3 separate regions of the Homo sapiens genome follow, and regions 2 and 3 are each linked to region 1. Evidence: fine-mapped expression QTL. A gene starts in region 1. Each other region holds a variant in brackets. All regions are shown on one strand. Distances are between the middles of the regions. Region 1 holds the start of ARHGAP45 (Rho GTPase activating protein 45). Region 2 overlaps ABCA7 (ATP binding cassette subfamily A member 7). Region 3 overlaps POLR2E (RNA polymerase II, I and III subunit E).

Region 1 (5,594 bases):
CTCCCAGTGGGGACCGGGCCTTCCCCAACTAGTGCCCTGAAGGTGCAGAGGCCACTCCACCACTTGAGGTCCAGTCCTGGCTCTGCCCTGCCCTGGCTGGGTGAGCCAGGGGTCAGGGCCTCACTAGAGACTTAGTTTCGTCATCTGTAAAATGGGCGGCTGCTGGGAGCAGATCAGAGCGCCTGGCATGACCCTGGCACTGTGGTTTCTGGGAGGAGCCGGGGGCTGAAGGCAGCACATGAGGTGCCCGCCTGGGCTGCCAGGGACAAACAGGAAGCAGATGAAAATAACTCGGCAGGAAGCAGGGCTGTCAGCGGCCGCGTGGAGGAGAAAACGGAACTGCCGGCCTGCAGGCCGCTGGGTCCCAGCACCTCCGCCGCCTGATGACCCCATCCTGCCCCTCGCCATGCCTCCTGAATCTCTCTCCACCCAGACCTCAGCCAACCCCCAGTTTGCTTCATTCCAAGACACAGATCTGCCCCCATCTGTCCTGTGCTCTAACACCTTCTATGGCTCCCCATTGCCCTTCTGCCTGGCGTTGTCATGCCTTCATCCTACACCAGCGGCACCCCACACCTTGGCCCCCAAATGCATTCTCTGTTTCCGTGTTTCTGAGCCTGTGCATGGGACATTTCCTCTGCCTTTCCCTCCTAATTGCCATCAGATCCTTTAAAAAAAATAAAGTGGGCACCCTCTTGAGCCAGTGTACGCTCAGGGACTCCCCCACCAAACTCCTACACATCCCTCAGAGCCTTAGCTGTCATGGCCTCTTCCACACAGCCCTCCCTGCCATCTGAGCCTCCCTCCCTTCTGAGCCTCCCCAAGTCCCTCCCTCCATCCTCCCTTGGGTCTGGCTCTGTCTTCCACCCAGGCCTCGGTGTCCCCGTGGCTCTCACCGTCACGCAACACACACTCCTTAAGTTTCTCAAGGCCCTCAGCGAAGCGGGCCACGTCCGCCAGCAGATGGGAGATGTCCTCGACGACGTCCGGGCCGGCACCCTCGGTGGGCAGCTCGCCCGGGCTGGCGGCTGTCAGTGGGCTCCGGTGGCTCCGGCCCAGTGTCCAGGAGGCAGCACCCGACAGGGGGAAGCCAGCCGCGCTGGCGTGGCGGCTCAGGCTGGTGGGCCGCTTGAGGGTCCCTGTGGCCTTGACGCCGGAGGACCCAGCGGGCGGCTCCAGGCTTGGTCCGGGGAACACCGCGTCAGCCCCATCCTTCCTGGGCAGCTCCTTGGGCAGGTCCGAGGGGAGCTCGTTAAAGGGATTTTCCGGCCTGGACACGGCCTCAGTTTCCCCAGAAATGAAGTGGGGCTGTGGAGGGCCACCATCACCCTGACCCCACAGGGGTCAAAGGCCAGAGGTCACAGGGCCGAGATTTGGTAGTGTACCCCCCCACCTGTTACCCAACATCCTCTTCCCTAGAGCTTTCACAAACAACGGTCCTTGCCCAAACCACAGCCGGGGCGGGGCCTGCGGGGAGGCGCGGGAGGGGGGTCCCCACTTCCTGGTGGGGGTGGGGAGGGTCCTCAGCCCTTCAAGCCCCCCTCAGGCTCCTACAACGCAGGTGCTTTAAGTGAACACACTTCTGACTCTGTCTGTCCCCTAAAGGTCCATGGAACCCCAGAGCCTATGGGCAGCCCCAGGCCTTGTAGACATCCCGGACCCCCAAGCTCTGTAGACCCCCCCCCCAGCTTTGTAGACACCCCAGGCCTGGGGACACTCCCCAACCTCTGAACCTGGTGGATCCCATTAGAGGATCTGCTGCCCGGTCAACCTTCAGCCCAATGGCCAGGCCACAGCCCTCCCATCTCAACGGCCCCTAGAGCCCCCAGATTGCCTAAGCCCCCAACCTGCAGCGGCCCAAACACAACATCGTCCCAACCCGGCACCCTCCCTTCCTGCTCCCTGGGCCCCGCGGCCAGCCCTGGATGGAGTGGAGGGAGGCGGCCACCACTCCCAGGGTCCCTACCGTGAGCTGAATGCCGGGGTCCCGGCCTCTCTGCTGTGGCCCCTGCCGTCCCGCCCGGTAGGGGCTGTAGCTGGCACGAGCCCCCAGCCGCCGCCCCAGCATGAGCCCCGAGCACAGGGCGGGTCCCTGTCCCCCTGCGGCCCGGCGTCAGCTCCGGGTCTCACCCGGGCTCCACTCACCCCCGAGGGCTGCGGGCTGGGGCTTCCCGCGCGGTTCTTTTTCGAGATGGAAGGGGTTTTCATGAGCTCTCGTTTCTTCCTGGAGAACATGATGGGGCCCCGGCCGGGAGCCCGAGGGGGCGGGCTGGGGGTCTCAGCGCTGCAGCTCCCGGCGCTGGCCGCTTCGGGACCACATTGTCGCCGGCCACCCCCTCCCCAGCTGTCAGGCCCACGTGACAGGCCCGGCCGTCACTGGCGGGCCCTCCCCCCAACAGGAAAAGGCTTCGGGGAGGCGGCGACGCGGCCTCGCCCCCGACCCTTCCCGGCCTCAGCCTGCGGCTCTGCGGAGTGGGCGCGAAGGTGAGGTCGCAGGCCCCGCCCCCAGCCCCGGGCCGCGCCCCCCGCTTCCGCCTTCGGGAGCTCGGAGCCGCGCCGCTCGCGGGGTGGGACCGGGAGCCCCTGCCTGACGCTGGCGGGCACGGGGCGGCCGACTGCAGGGCGCTGACTCTCACTCCCGGACGCGAGTGGGCGTGCACAGACACGTGCACGATGACACGCAGAGACCCGGACCTCCACACGCGCTCAGACGCCACCAAGCCCCTGGAGCCTCGCCCTCAGACCCCAGACACACGCACAGGCCGAAGCTGCGCCCCTGCAGCCCCCTTTTCCCTGAAGGCAAGCCCGCTCCACCGCCTCTCCTGCAGACCCTAGGGTGTGGCCGGGCCCCAGCAGGGCCGGGCAGAGTAGGGTCCCCCCCATCACCCGCCCTGCAGCCCCGTGAAGTGGGTCAGGTCGAGGACAGGTGGGGAAACTGAGGCCCAGAACCGAAACCCTGGGGGCAAAGACGTCCAGGAAGTCAGAACAATCCAGGTTACCGGGCCCTGTCCGTCTGGGTCCCCACGTCCGTCTGGGTCCCCACGTCCACCTGGTCCTGGGCTGCCTGCACAGGGGTCCCCAAAGTGTGGTGTGGACCCCACCATCGGCAGAATATGCTGAGGACACCTGGTTACCTCTCAGCAGCCCTGTGGGCCATATCATGTTGCCCCAGACCTGCCCTTAGCTAAGGTCCCCAGCCCCGCCTCCCAAGCTGCATTCCAGTGACTCTGGACCACCGGACGTGCTGGGCAGCAGGACGCAGGCACCCGTTGCTGATAACAGCCTGAGGCGGCATTGGCCAAGAGCTGGGGCATCTGCAGGCATACAGATCCCAGCCTCCTACCTTCCCCCAACCCCCACCCCGCAGTGTGAACTCTCTCCCCCCTCCCCAAGTCTCCCTGCTGTCCCCTTCCAGAACCCCACCCCCAATCCCAAAACCCCAACCTCTTTCCTTTCCCAAACCCCATTCCCACCTACCTCGGGTGGGAGGGGCAGATCTCTGGGGCACAGGACATGAAGGCCACAGCCCCTTGCTCCAAGTCTGGCTCTCCAGGCCCAGGTCCAAGTGCAAACCCAGCCCAGCAGACCCTTGAGAACTCTTTGCCCCCGACTCATGGCGCTGAGGGCTGGGGTCAGAGGGTGAGGGTCAGCTGGATGTCGGATGGGCTTCTGGCCCGGCCCTGGCCTGTGCTCCGGGACACCGGGCTCCTGTAAGCTTCCCAGGACATTCCTGAGTCCTGACCTCATCCCCACTTTATGGCCAGGCACTTACAGGTACCGCCCTTAGGCGCCAGCCCCACATAGGCACGCAGGGACGTGGGGACAGGGACGGTGTGACCAGGCCCTTATGAGGCCCGCACTCACATCCCCAACTCCTGGGCTGGCCACAGAGGCATTTACAGCTGGGATCCGGTCAGCTGTAGGCACGCTCACACCTGTGTCCTATGAATCGCCACTTGGCCCGTATGTGCACACTCAGCTTGCAAGGGGCCAGCCATATCCAGACGCATGTGCAGGCAGCTGTGTGGACATGTGTGCAGCCTGGCTCAAGGACACACATGCACACGGTTTCACCACCACGGCTTCTCTCCAGCCTTCTCTTTATTTTCTCCAGGGCACCAGCCCCTCTGCCAGCCTGAGTCCAGGGCTCCTAGGCACTCTACCTTGCCCTTGCCATTCCCAGGGCCTCCCCGCGGCCCCGCAGGGGAGGGAGGCTCAGAGCACAGTCTCGGCAGTGCTAGGGTCATCGAGGAACTGGCTGACGCGTTTGGGGTGCTGCAGGCCTGGCGCGGGGTCCACTCCCACTCCTGCCTCCTTCTGCTCTTCGGTGTCCTCGTCCTTCCCCTGGTCCTTGGAGAAGTACAAGAATACCTAGCGGTGGGCAGCCCAGAGGGGACAAGAGGGACGGTCAGCCCACGGGCCTGGCCCCCAGCCTGCCTCCCCCAGCCCGACCCCGGCGCCGTGATCACCTCCTCCAGCATCGTCTGGCTCACGGAAAAGTCCTCCACGCCGTGCTCTGCGCCGTGCACCGCCAGCTCTCCAAAGACGCGCGCCAGGGCGCAGCGCCCTCCCGGCGGCAGCTGGAAGCGCAGGCGGCCTCCATGTGCCTCGCGCAGCTCCGCCCCAGGGAACTCGGCCGCCACGAAGGCCGCTGCCGGCTGGGACCTTGCGGCGGGCACCCGCAGGGTCAGTGTGTGACCCGCCGCGAATCTGCAGTGAGTGGGGCCAGGGCTACCGGATCGGGCCTTTCCCAGGTCCCACCTCAGCTCACCCTCCAGCCCCTAATACTCTCTGGCCCCGCCCCATACTTGTACTACCCTAGCGATCAAGTGGTCCTCCCGTCTCAGTCCCCCGCCACCCCCCGCCCGCGTAGCTGAGACCACAGGCACACACCACCATGTCCAGCTAATTTTTAAATTTTTTATAGAGATGGGGTCTCCCTAGGTTGCCCAGGTTGCTCTCGAAGCTATCACCCCACTTGACTCCTTTTTCGGACACTCCTCTTTCGCCCTTGCACTCTACCCCCGCCCACACAATAAATACCCCCGCCCCACTTTCCTATGGCCCCGCCCACTAACCAGGCCCTCCCCTAACTCCACCCATCAATCCACCCTCACCTCTCCAGGCTGCACCTACTCCAACGCACACCTGATTGTGTCTTCTAAATCCACCCAGAGCCCCCGGCTCACGCCTCCTGGTCCTGCGCCCCCAGCACACCCCAGCCTGTCTCGCCCCCTCAGTCACCCCTGCAGGACAATCTAAAGCCTTGGCCATCTCTCCAGTTGGAGCCAAACTTTCCTCACCCGGCTCTACGTCTGGCCTCTCCCCTGAGCCTACCTACGTGCCCACCCTCACCCCACACCTGCCTGGAGGCCGCGCCGGCTCACCTGCCCTTGAGATGTTGCGGGCTGCCCAGGCAGCGGAACCGCCCATTCACCATGATGGCCAGGCGCGAGCAGAGCGCTTCACACTCCTCCATGCTGTCGGGACCCGGCACCACGAGCTCCGTGAGGCCGGGGCCACCTGTGCCTGGCGCCACACTGCCTGCTTCCCCCGGCCTGGGCCACCCTTCTGGTGTGGACATCTCCCCACTC
Region 2 (5,594 bases), 20 kb after region 1:
GGGGCTCACGGGGTGGGAGTGGGGGGGCTCACGGGGAGGGAGTGGTTGGGGGCTCACAGGGTGGTGGTCTTGCCGGCCCCGTTGTGGCCCAGGAAGGCGGTGATGTGGCCCTGGTAGAAGTCCAGGCTGAGCCCCCGCAGGGCTGGCTGCGGGCTTCCAGGAAAGCGCTTCTCCAGGCTGCGAACGGAGACGCCAGGACTCAGGCCGGGCGGTGCCTCTTCTACCAGCACTGCAGAGATGGGGTGGACTCAGCCATGGAGGTCATGGGGGTCCTGGGGCCTGCAAGTCCCTCAGAGCTGGGCTGTGGAATCCGGGACCTGCTGGGCCGGGGCCTATAAAAGCTGCGGGAGCTTGGGGACCGCAGTGTCTTCAGGGCAGGTGTGAGGGTTGGGGTGTCCAGGTCATTGTCATTGGCATCTGTGGAATCTCGTTTTGGGGGGGAACTGGGCATATGTGGACAACCAGCTATTAAGCCTCGTAGTGCCTCACCCTTTGGGTCCAGCGGGGTGGGGCAAGGGGCTGGACTCTTGGGGGGCCGAGGTCCGCACCAGTAGCTCCTCCGAAAAGGAAAATTCCATGGTTCAGGGATCCCGTACTGGCCTGCGGGGAGGGGCGCGGGTTATTGCTTAGCCCACCCCCCAGGAGTGTACCAGGCTTTTTTTGGGGTTTTGTTTTTTTTTTTTTTTGAGACGGAGTCTTGCTCTGTTGCCCAGGCTGGAGTGCAGTGGCACGATTTTGACTCGCTGCAAGCTCCGCCTCCCCAGTTCACGTCATTCTCCTGCCTCAGCCTCCTGAGTAGCTGGGACTACAGGCGCCCGCCACCATGCCTGGATAATTTTTTGTATTTTTGGGAGAGACGGGGTTTCACCGTGTTAGCCAGGATGGTCTCCATCTCCTGACCTCGTGATCTGCCCACCTCGGCCTCCCAAAGTGCTGGGAAAGCAGGCGTGAGCCACCGTGCCCGGCCTTGTTTTTTTTTTTTTTGTTTTTTTTTTTTTGAGACTGAGTTTCACTCTTGTTGCCCAGGCTGGAGTGCAGTGGCGCGATCTCGACTCACCGCAACCTCCGCCTCCGGGATTCAAGCATTTCTCCTGCCTCTGCCTTCCAAGTAGCTAGGAAACAGGCACCCGCCACCACACCCAGCTAATTTTGTATTTTTAGTAGAGACGGGGTTTCTCCATGTTGGTCAGGCTGGTCTCGAAATCCCGACCTCAGATGACCCGCCCGCCTCGGCCTCCCAAAGTGCTGGGATTACAGGCGTGAGCCACCGCACCCAGCCAGCTTTTTTTTTTTTTTTTTTTTTAAAGAGATGGAGGTCTCACTCTGTTGCCCAGGCTGGTGGGATCACGGCTCACAGCAGCCTCAACCTCCTGGGCTCGAGTGATCCTCCCACCCCATCCTCCCGAGTAGCTGGGACTACAGGAGCGTGCCACCACGCCCAGCGTGCCACCACGCCCAGCTAACTTTTTGTATTGATGAGGTCTCACTATATTGCCCAGCCTGGTCTCAAACTCCTGGGCTCAAGCGATTCTCCTGCCTTGGCCTCCCAAAGTGCTGGGATTACAAGCGTGAGCCACAGCGCCCGGCGACTGTGCCAGCTTCTGGCCATACACCTGGAATCAGGGCGTCCAGGTATGAGGCGGCCCAGAAACCCCGCCCACCTGCCTCAGGCCCCGCCCCTCCAATGCAGCCACCTGCATGCGTGTGCCAAGAAGCCCCGCCTTCTCTCCAAGGGAATAAGCCACCCCCCACCCCCAAACGGCCTGGAGGCCACACCCCTAGCTCAGCCTCCCGCAAAGCAGGTGCGACCCGGCCCGGAGCCCCGCCCCCTACGGCCCACCTGGGCACACAGCTTCCAGGTACCAGGTGGCGAGGCCGTAGAGCGCCGCGTCCAGCAGCAGAAGGCCAGAGACCTGGGCCAGGCTGAAGACGTCTGCCGTAGGCCGGGTGCCCACGTTGTGCCACTGCGCGCCCTCGCCCTGCTCCTCCAGCAGAGCCAGGCTCTCGCAGCCGAAGCCGAAGGCCACGGGCGACAGCAGGCTCTGCGGAAAAGCGGGCGGTCAGTGAGCGGCCGAAGCGGGGGGCGTCCCCCATCCACGCCCGACCCGGCTCTCACCGCGGCCACGCGGCCACCCGCGGGCAGCCGGTCCCGCCAAGCCACACACAGCACGTAGGGCAGGTAGAGGGAGAAGTAGGCCAGGCCGCCGCAGGCCGCAGCCAGGTTGGCGCGGGAGAAGAAGGCGCTGAGCAGGAAGCTCTGGGTCACCGTGGCCACCGCGAAGGCTGCCAAGAACAGGAAGACCACGCCCGGGTGGCTGTAGGGGAGGATGTC[T/C]CCCAGCTGTGAGAGGCAACGGGAGCTTAGGGTGCAGCTCCTGGATTGGCCTGGGGGCGCGCACCCACGTGGGGCCGCCCCTGTCTGTCACCCTCCAGCGCACCCATTCTGCAGCCGGGCAGGCCGAGGCGCGCCCACCTTGAGCACCAGAACCAGCAGTGCGGCGCTGAGCAGGAAGGGCCCGAGGCAGCTGAGGAACCAGCCTAGCCAGAGCACCGCGCGGCTGAGCCCCATGGCGCGCATGGTGTCCCGCAGCCGCGTCTCCTTCTCCCGCACCACGGCCTTCACTGTCAGTGTCACGGAGTAGATCCAGGCCAGCGTCAGGAAGAGCGGCAGCGACCGGCTCAGCACACGCAGGAACCTGGGGTGGGGACGGCTGGGGTGGAGGCTGGAGACCCTCCGCAGACCCCCCCTCCGCCCACCATCTGGCACGACTGGTTCGTGTCCCGGGATCTCAAGGCGGGAAGATTTGCCTCCCTGTTCCTTGGAACCTGATCCAGCCAGCCTTTGGCTCTCAGGCATCAGTGCAGCCCAGGCTGTCCCTGCGCCGGGGGCCCCCAGACCCTCAGAGTCCCCCCCCCCACCAGACCCTCAGAGTCCCCTGCTCCTCCCGCTGCAGCAGGTCACGTGGAGTGGTGTAAAGGTGCAAAGTTCGCAGCCTGGACCGCAGGAAGGTTCCCAACAGAGCCTGGGCCCACCCCCACACCCGGGACCTTCCCGCCGCGGGGAAGAGCGGGGAGGGGTGCCAGAGCTCACACGTCGTCCACATAGCACGGATAGGGCATCTGCTGCAGGTAGAGGCCGGCCCGGGGGTTGGCGCCGCTGAGCACGCGGACGGCTGCACGCTCCACCAGGTCTTGCAGGTACACGAAGCCGCCCCACACGTAGCGCAGGTCGGTCAGGGGGTCCGCGGCTGGGCCAGGGTCCCAAAACCTGCGAGAGGGGCATGGTGGCCGGTTGTAGGGAAGGGCTAGAAACTCCCGGGGCCCCACCCTGAATAACCTTTTTCTTAGACAGGGTCTTGCTCTGTCGCCCAGGCTGGAGTGAAGAGCTGCAATCATAGCTCACTGCAGCCTTGACCTCCCGGGATCAAACGATCCCCCCAGCTCGGCCTCCCAAGTCGCCTGGCTAATTTTATTCATTTATTCATTTGTTTGAGACGGAGTCTCGCTCTATCGCCCAGGCTGGAGTGCAGTGGCGCCATCTCGGCTCACTGCAACCTCCGCCTCCTGGGTTCAAGCGATTCTCCTGCCTCAGCCTCCTGGGTAGCTGGGCCTACAGGCGCGTGCTACCACGCCCGGCTAATTTTTTGTACTTTTTTTTTTTAGTAGAGGCAGGGTTTCACCGAGTTAGTCAGGATGGTCTTGATCTCCTGACCTCGTGATCCGCCCGCCTCAGCCTCCCAAAGTGCTGGGATTACAGGCGTGAGCCACTGTGCCCGGCCTCACCTGGCTAATTTTTAAAGATATTTTCGTGAGGTTGGTGGGGGAGGGGGGCGGGGGGGAGGCGGTCTCACTATGTTGCCCAGGCTAGTCTCGAATACCTGTCCTCAAGAGATTCTCCCACTTTGGCCTCCCAAAGTTCTGAGATAACAGGCAAGATCTACTGCGCTCAGCACCCGGTGCAATTTTAGCTCCACCCTTATTCCAGGGACCTAATAATACACCTGGCTCCGCCCACCATTGCCCTCAACCTATACCTGCTCTCATCTTATCTCAGGCCCATGGCCACGCCCCTCATGCACCTAGGCCCCGCCCATCACGGGCCCCTATTGGTCTAAGGAGCCCCGGGCTCTGGCTACCATACCACTGTTGATACAGCCCAGATCCTGTCTATCATGGTCTCCAATAGGCTGAATGCTGCCTGGCCCCACCCACCACGCTCTTGGCCCCGCCCAGTCCCTCATCCCCCCGCCCCCTCCCTCGCCTGACCTGTCCCTGATCTTATTGGTCCTCGTGACCACGTCAATGTCCATGCGGATTTTGATGCGCACGTGGCCGGGGCCCAGGTCTGGGGTTGGGTGCTCTGTGGGGTCTGAAGAGTCCTCAGGTCCCAAGAAGACGACGCCGGCCCAGAATCGATGTTCCGCGAGCAGTTGCAGGGCCCGCGACACCAGGGCTGCCTCTGAGGGTGCCGCCTCCAGCTTGTCCAAGGACAGGCACTGTGGGATGCGGGGGTGAGTCCTAGGCGCTGGGGTCCGCCTGCCTCCTAGACCACTCCGCTCCTCCCCCTGGACCTCGGGGCTGGGCCATGTTTTCCCCTCGTAGGCCCACGGCCGGCTCCCTCCTGAGATCTCTACAAATCCCAGGCTCTTACTAGGGCCGGGCCCGCCTCCCCCTGGGAACACCAGGGTGGGAACACTAGGATGGGACCTGCCCTCCCCACTGAAACAGACCCCGCAGGTGGACAGGCCCTCACCTCCGTCACTCGGCCCAGCGTGCCCACCAGGTGCCCCACATCAGCGTGTGCGTCCTGCCAGCTGTAGCCACCGCTCCCAGGGTCCAGAAAGGATCGCAGGGCCTCCATGTGGTCCCGGCCTCCAGGTCTGGGCTGCCTTCTTCCTTCATCCTGCATCTGCAGGAGCCGCTGGGGGGCGCAGGTGAAAGTGAGAGTCTGGGTCGGGCACAGTGGCTCATGCCTGTAATCCCAGCACTTTGGGAGGCGAGGCGGGTGGATCACCTGAGGTCAGGAGTTCGAGACCAGCCTGGCCAACATGGTGAAAGCCCATCTCTACTAAAAATACAAAAAGTAGCCGGGAGTGGTGGCGCATGCCTGTAATCCCAGTTACTTGTGAGGCTGAAGCAGGAGAATTGCTTGAATCCAGGAGGCGGAGGTTGCAGTGAGCCAAGATCTCGCCACTGCAGTCCAGCCTGGGCAACAGAGTGAGACTCCATCTCTTAAAAAAAAAAAAAAAAAAAAAAAAAGCAGGACGTGGTAGTTCACGCCTGTAATCCCAGCACTTTGGGAGGCCGAGGCGGGTGGATCACGAGGTCAGGAGATCGAGACCATCCTGGCTAACATGGTTAAACCCCGTCTCTACTAAAAATAAAAAAAAAAAATCATCCGGGCGTGGTGGTGGGCGCCTGTAGTCCCAGCTACTCAGAGGGTGAGACAGGAGAATCGCTTGAACCCGGGAGGTGGAGGTTGCAGTGAGTCGAGATCACGCCACTGCATTCCAGCTTGGGCGACAGAGCGAGACTCCATCTCAAAAAAAAAAAAAAAAAAGTGGGGGTCTGCACGGAGCCCACCTTCCCATCCACCG
Region 3 (5,594 bases), 22 kb before region 1:
ACTCAGGCCTCGTTTTGCAAACGCGGAAGCCGAGGCCCGAGCAGGAGAGACACCTGTGTGGAATGGGGCTGGAACCTGGGTGCTCTGGGCTCTGGGTGGGCGAGGGCCACGAGGGCCCAGGCTCGTGCAGGCCAGCACACTCTCTGTCTGCAGAGGAGCCCAAGGTGGGCATCAAGACCATCAAGGTGTACTGCCAGCGCATGCAGGAGGAGAACATCACACGGGCTCTCATCGTGGTGCAGCAGGGCATGACACCCTCCGCCAAGCAGGTGGGCACCCCTGCCCCACCCCGCCAGCCTCTCCCCCTCCCCAGCCTCCTCCCGCAAGCAGTACCCACAGGCGGCCCACGTGCCTTGGGCTTTGGGCCAGGCCAGCCAGGGTGCCCTGGAGGATGTGGCCGGGATGTCCGGCAAGCCCCGACCGCCTCCCTCCCACCGCGTCCATGGGCCCCACCCCAGGCAGCCGCCGTCCTCCCCCAGCTCTCAGGAGGGGCGTCAGGGCGGAGGGCACTGTGCCTCTCGCCAGCTCCTGTGGGCTCCAGCCCTCGGCCTGGTGCAGATTCCAGGAGCCGGAGGTTCTTTATCCTGAGCTGATGTCCAGGGGGACTTGCAGAGGAGGCCCGGCACGGGGTCCTCCAGGGGCCTATCCGTGTTCCCCGTCTGTCTGTCGGACACTCTGGAGCCAGGCTGCTGTGCTGTGACGGGCAGTCAGCAGAGCAGTTTAGTCCCTGGCCCACCAGCTGTGGGGTTCACGCAGCCACACAGAGCAGCACCCCTGTATGGGGAAGAGGTCGCCCTGCCAGCTCTGAGGGCCGCCCCTGGAAGCGTGTGATGGATGGAAACACATCCGAGTTTCCACGGCCACTTCACTGCTGGATGAGGCTCTCGATGAGCAGAGAGGCTGGGGAGGGGCGGGCTGTTGAAGGCTCCTGGGCTGGCGGTGGGGTTTTCTGATTCACGACGTGGGTGTGTTGTTGGGGCACACGAGTAAGCCCCAGGTAGCTTGAGGCAGGAAATGGGGTTGGGGTTGTCTGGGCCCCTCCGGGCCGTGCCTTAGAGCCGCTCTCTTCCAGTCCCTGGTCGACATGGCCCCCAAGTACATCCTGGAGCAGTTTCTGCAGCAGGAGCTGCTCATCAACATCACGGAGCACGAGGTGGGCGCGCGCCGCGGAATCCCGCCTGCGTGGGGCCGGCAGAGATGCAGCGTTTGTGGGTGGCCAGGAAGATGTGGGATCTGGGGCCCAGGGCAGGTGTTCCTATTAGTGCATGGAGGACAGGGTTCTCAAAGGGTGGCCCTGGGCCTGCAGCAGCCGAACCCGGGAGCTTCCTAGAAATGCAGATCCCGGCCGGGCGCGGTGGCTCACACATGTAATCCCAGCACTTTGGGAGGCCGAGGCGGGCGGATCACGAGGTCAGGAGTTCCAGACCATCCTGGCTAACACGGTGAAACCCCGTCTCTACTAAAAATACAAAAAAATTAGCCAGGCGTGGTGGCGAGCGCCTGTAGTCCCAGCTACTCGGGGAGCCGAGATTGTGCCACTGCACTCCAGCCTGGGAGACAGAGCAAGACTCCATCTCAAAAAAAAAAAAAAAAAAAAAAATGCAGATCCCGGGCCCACCCCAGCCTGTAGAATCGGGACTGCTGGGAGTGTGGAGGGACCCTAGTGCTGGGACAGGAGGAGTCCCAGCAGGAGGTGGCTGTGCCCAGCCCGTCTGCCTCAGAAGCCCCAGGAGCTGTGACTCCGTCCCCCGCCTGTGGAGCCAGGGTGGGGTGGGTGGGCTCCCTGAGTGCCGGGGATCGGGGTGGGGTTCAGGGCTCTTGTCCGTCTGAAGGCGCAGGGGCTGTGGTGGCACCTGGGAGCCACGTGGGGTCTCACCAGCCCTTGGTGATGCCTGGTGGCTTCCTCTCTCGGCAGCTAGTCCCTGAGCACGTCGTCATGACCAAGGAGGAGGTGACAGAGCTGCTGGCCCGATAGTATCCTTTCCAGCCCCACCGGCCCCGCCCCTCCCTGTCCCTCGAGACTTCCGCGTTCCCCCCCCACACACACCCCTGCCCCCCCAACGGCCCTGTCTGGCATTTTCCTGACGGTGCTTCGCAGTAAGCTCCGAGAGAACCAGCTGCCCAGGATCCAGGCGGGGGACCCTGTGGCGCGCTACTTTGGGATAAAGCGTGGGCAGGTGAGCCCTGTGGGGAGAAGGGGCCCTGGGGCTGCTCTGAGCTGACCACTCGGAGAAGGGGGCTTCTGTCCCTCCCCGACAGCCCCTCCCCCTTGATCCAGGGCCTGGAGGGGACCTCGAGACCACACCCCCAATATCCCCCTCTTAAAGCCAGGGCCACTGGGCCCAGAGAAGAGCGTGACCCAGGTTCCCAGGGAGCGGGTCCCACAGCCCAGGGTCAGCCATCTCGGACCCCTGCCGGCCATCCCCAGCCCGTGTGCTGCCCGCCTGCTGTCTGGTGACTGCAGTGAGACCCCTCAAGCATTCGCAGCCCCTGCTCTCTGTCTCTGCAGGTGGTGAAGATCATCCGGCCCAGTGAGACGGCTGGCAGGTACATCACCTACCGGCTGGTGCAGTAGCTACCGCCTGACAGGTGAGACGGCCGAGGGACAGGCACTGAGGTGGGGTCAGAGGCAGGGGTGTCGTCCCCTCCGTCG[G/A]TGTGCAGGGCTGTTCTTGCTTTGTCCGGCAGCAAGACCCTCCTAGCACCAGCCCAGCTGGGCCACCAGGCGCTCCCAGGACACCCCCAGACCCCCAGACCCCACCCGACCGTAGGCTGCAGCTCTTGGGGCTGTGCGCCTGGACGGGAGAGTCCTGGTACGCGGGGCGTGCGTCTCTCCGCCGCTGACCCACCTTAGAAGCAGGAGACGTTCACCTGCAGGGCAGTTGTGCGGCGGGACTTTCCAGAAGAGGGTTTAGAAACCTGCCCAGAGACCCCAGAGCTGAGAGAGGAGGCACAGCTTCAGGCCAACCCTTCCCTGAGTGGGCACCTTGGGAGGGACTGGCCGGAGTCTCAGGAGCGGGACAGCCTCTGCCCATGGCGAGAGCCTCCCAGCTTCCCCTGGACTCTGGTCATGGCGAGCTGCTGTCCTGCAGGCCGCCCCACTTCACACTCAGCCCAGGGGTGGGGCTTGGCCTGGTCTGACGCTGGCACGGTTCCTTTGAGGTCAGAGCTACTGCCCACGCCTGTGTGACCGCTGGGCACAAGGGAGCCGTCCGGCCTCTGCACTGCGGCCTGGGCCGCCTCCTGCCAGGCCTCCCGCACCCCGTCACGTTCGGTGGGCGTTGTGCTGTCCTGGGCATACTGGATCTGCCCCTGTCGTGTGACCACTCTCCCCCTTTCCTAGCCCCTAGAGGCGGACACACAGCGACCCCCATCCCTGCAGGACAAACGCCCCTGCCCTGCCAGAATCCGGCCCCCACAGCTCTCACGGCTGCTGCTCCTCTGGACTCCCCAAGGCAGGTGGCCTCCACCCACGTTCTCCCGTCCTGGGGTGAGGCTTCCTGTGGCCCAGCCCGCCCCATTCACCTGTGGATTTGTGCGAGATGCAGCCTCAGAAGGAACAAGGCCCCCAGAGGGAGGTCACCTGGGGGCAGCTGGTGCCGGGTCTTCACCCAGACCACGCTGGGTCCCCTCTGTTGGGGGTTTGGGGTCCGGGTCTCCCACCAGCCACTGCTTCCTCCTGGGCCCTCGGCCTTCCACCCCTCGTCTTCCCTCCCTCGGGGGCCCTGATGCGTGGCGGCCCCCGCCCGGCCTCGGCTCTTTACTCCATTCACAGCCATGCACGCGCTCAAGCCACCAGGGTGCGAGATGCCAGCTCTGGAGTTCTCGGTTGTTGTAGGAGGTTGGGTGTTTTCAAATGGTAAAGATGTTTTGAGCAAATAAATTTGCTTGATACAGAAACCAGGCCGACTAACAAGGTTTCCAGCAGGTGGCCTTGCCTCACCCCAAGCACACGAGGTCAGCCTGGCAGGTGTGCCCTCCTCGCGCTGGCTTCAGGGGTCAGTGTCTCCCCAGGCCCTCGCCCTGCCCTCCCACTTCGTGCTCCTGGGTAAGGCGTGAGCGTGTCTGTCTCTTCCCTTCCCGTGAGGGTGTGGAGTTGTTCTCTGGCTTGTGCAGCTGTGGTTTGCGGCCAGTTCCTCTTACAGACGTTTGGGATCTGGCTCTACTTCCCCGTTTGCTTACTGTCTGATTTCAGAAGGCCTCGCCTGCCCAAGTTTAACCTAGCCACGTGGTTCTCTCACAGTAGCTTTATTAAGATGTAATTCACCCTCGGGCGGTCGGTGGTCTGTAACGCGCCCACTGTTCTGTGCAGCAGGGTCCCCAGATCCCCAGGCCGCGGACTGTGTGTGTGATGGGGACAGTGCTTCCCCTTCTCTCCAAATGTACTTTTTTCAAAATTGTCTTGGCCAAAGCAAGCCAGACCCAAAGGGACAAACACTGATGTCACTCCTAGGAGGTCACTAGAGTCGTCAGAGACTGGAAGTAGGATGGGGGTTCCCGGGACTGGGGAGTTGGGTGGGGATGGGGGTTCCCAGGGCTGGGGAGGAGGGAGGGGACAGAGTGTGTCATGTGCACAGTTTTAGTTTGGGAAGATGAGAAAATTCTGGAGGTGGCCGGGCGCGGTGGCTCACGCCTGTAATCCCAGCACTTTGGGAGGCCGAGGTGGGCGGATCACCTGAGGTCGGGAGTTCGAGACCAGCCTGACCAACATGGCAAAATCCCATCACTGCAAAAAATACAAAAATTACCTGGGCGTGGTGGTGCATGCCTGTAATCCCAGCTACTTGGGAGCTAAGGCAGGAGAATCACTTGAACCCAGGAAGTGGAGGATCGCTTGAGCTCAGGAGTTAAAAGACCAGCCCGGGCAACACAGAGAAACCCCCCACCTCTACAAAAAACTTTAAGATTACCTGGGCACAGTGGCTCACACCTGTAATCCCAACACTTTGGGAGGCTGAGGCGGGAGGATCATTTGAGCCCAGGAGGCCGAGGCTGCAGTGAGCTACGATTGTGCTCCTGTACTCCAGCCTGGGCCACAGGGTCACACCCTGTCTCAAAAAAAAAAAAAAATGCAGTTCCACAGGCGCATGGGCCACGTTTCCAGTGCTTGGTGGCCATGTGGGGCTGACGTGCGAAACCTTAGAGCCGGGGGATACGTCCGTCATCGAGAACGTTTTCCTGGACTGCCCTGGGCTGCAGGTGGACGTGACGAGGTCATTCGATGCCTGACCGTCTGCACAGCCTGTGGTGAAGACCACCCGGGCTCCCACCTCGCGGGGCCCCGTGGCGGGGGGTTCCCTTCCTCACACATCCCTCCCCTAGGGGGAGGCCCAGGGCCACGCCACGGGGCTCTCTCTGTCCCCTCCCTGGCCCCTTCTTCTAAGCTTGCAGCTGCCACAGAAAATCTTCTAAGCTTGCAGCTGCCACAGAAAACACCCGATTAAAAACTTTTTATTTCAGCAAAATAAACGTGCCTGTGAAAGAACCACACGGTGGCTTCCGAGAGACCCCACTGTGTACCTGAGCCCCAGGTGGCCACACCTGGTGTTCTGGAAAAGGGAGTCCAGGGCCAGTATTCAGGCCCTGCTGTACTGCAC

Evidence for each region.
Region 2: its variant is fine-mapped to the expression of ARHGAP45 in whole blood (TOPMed, PIP above 0.99).
Region 3: its variant is fine-mapped to the expression of ARHGAP45 in nucleus accumbens (GTEx, PIP 0.95).

Annotation. Positions count from the first base shown.
Region 1 is chr19:1,064,047-1,069,640 of GRCh38, reverse strand. It overlaps ARHGAP45 (Rho GTPase activating protein 45), which reads right to left and starts at 2,474. Exons shown (of 23, transcript NM_012292.5): 1 at 2,146-2,474; 2 at 897-1,227. The coding sequence starts at 2,235. ABCA7 (ATP binding cassette subfamily A member 7) reads right to left here. Exons shown (of 47, transcript NM_019112.4): 45 at 5,388-5,480; 46 at 4,470-4,710; 47 at 4,069-4,371. The coding sequence ends at 4,216. RefSeq lists enhancers at 175-334, 2,525-3,031 and silencers at 725-824, 1,355-1,594, 1,905-2,664, 4,505-4,554.
Region 2 is chr19:1,043,901-1,049,494 of GRCh38, reverse strand. It overlaps ABCA7 (ATP binding cassette subfamily A member 7), which reads right to left. Exons shown (of 47, transcript NM_019112.4): 11 at 4,751-4,918; 12 at 4,264-4,493; 13 at 3,089-3,265; 14 at 2,471-2,693; 15 at 2,117-2,338; 16 at 1,841-2,042; 17 at 490-600; 18 at 58-229. Among named protein-coding and RNA genes, the nearest start is that of ABCA7, 6.6 kb to the right of the region's middle. RefSeq lists silencers at 3,980-4,029, 4,120-4,269. The variant T/C (reference allele first, on the strand shown) is at 2,333.
Region 3 is chr19:1,086,467-1,092,060 of GRCh38, reverse strand. It overlaps POLR2E (RNA polymerase II, I and III subunit E), which reads left to right. Exons shown (of 8, transcript NM_002695.5): 3 at 154-269; 4 at 1,073-1,153; 5 at 1,916-1,974; 6 at 2,099-2,177; 7 at 2,510-2,589; 8 at 3,341-5,487. The coding sequence ends at 2,575. It overlaps ARHGAP45 (Rho GTPase activating protein 45), which reads right to left. Exons shown (of 23, transcript NM_012292.5): 23 at 5,433-5,594. Among named protein-coding and RNA genes, the nearest start is that of POLR2E, 6.1 kb to the left of the region's middle. RefSeq lists an enhancer at 3,006-3,105. The variant G/A (reference allele first, on the strand shown) is at 2,654.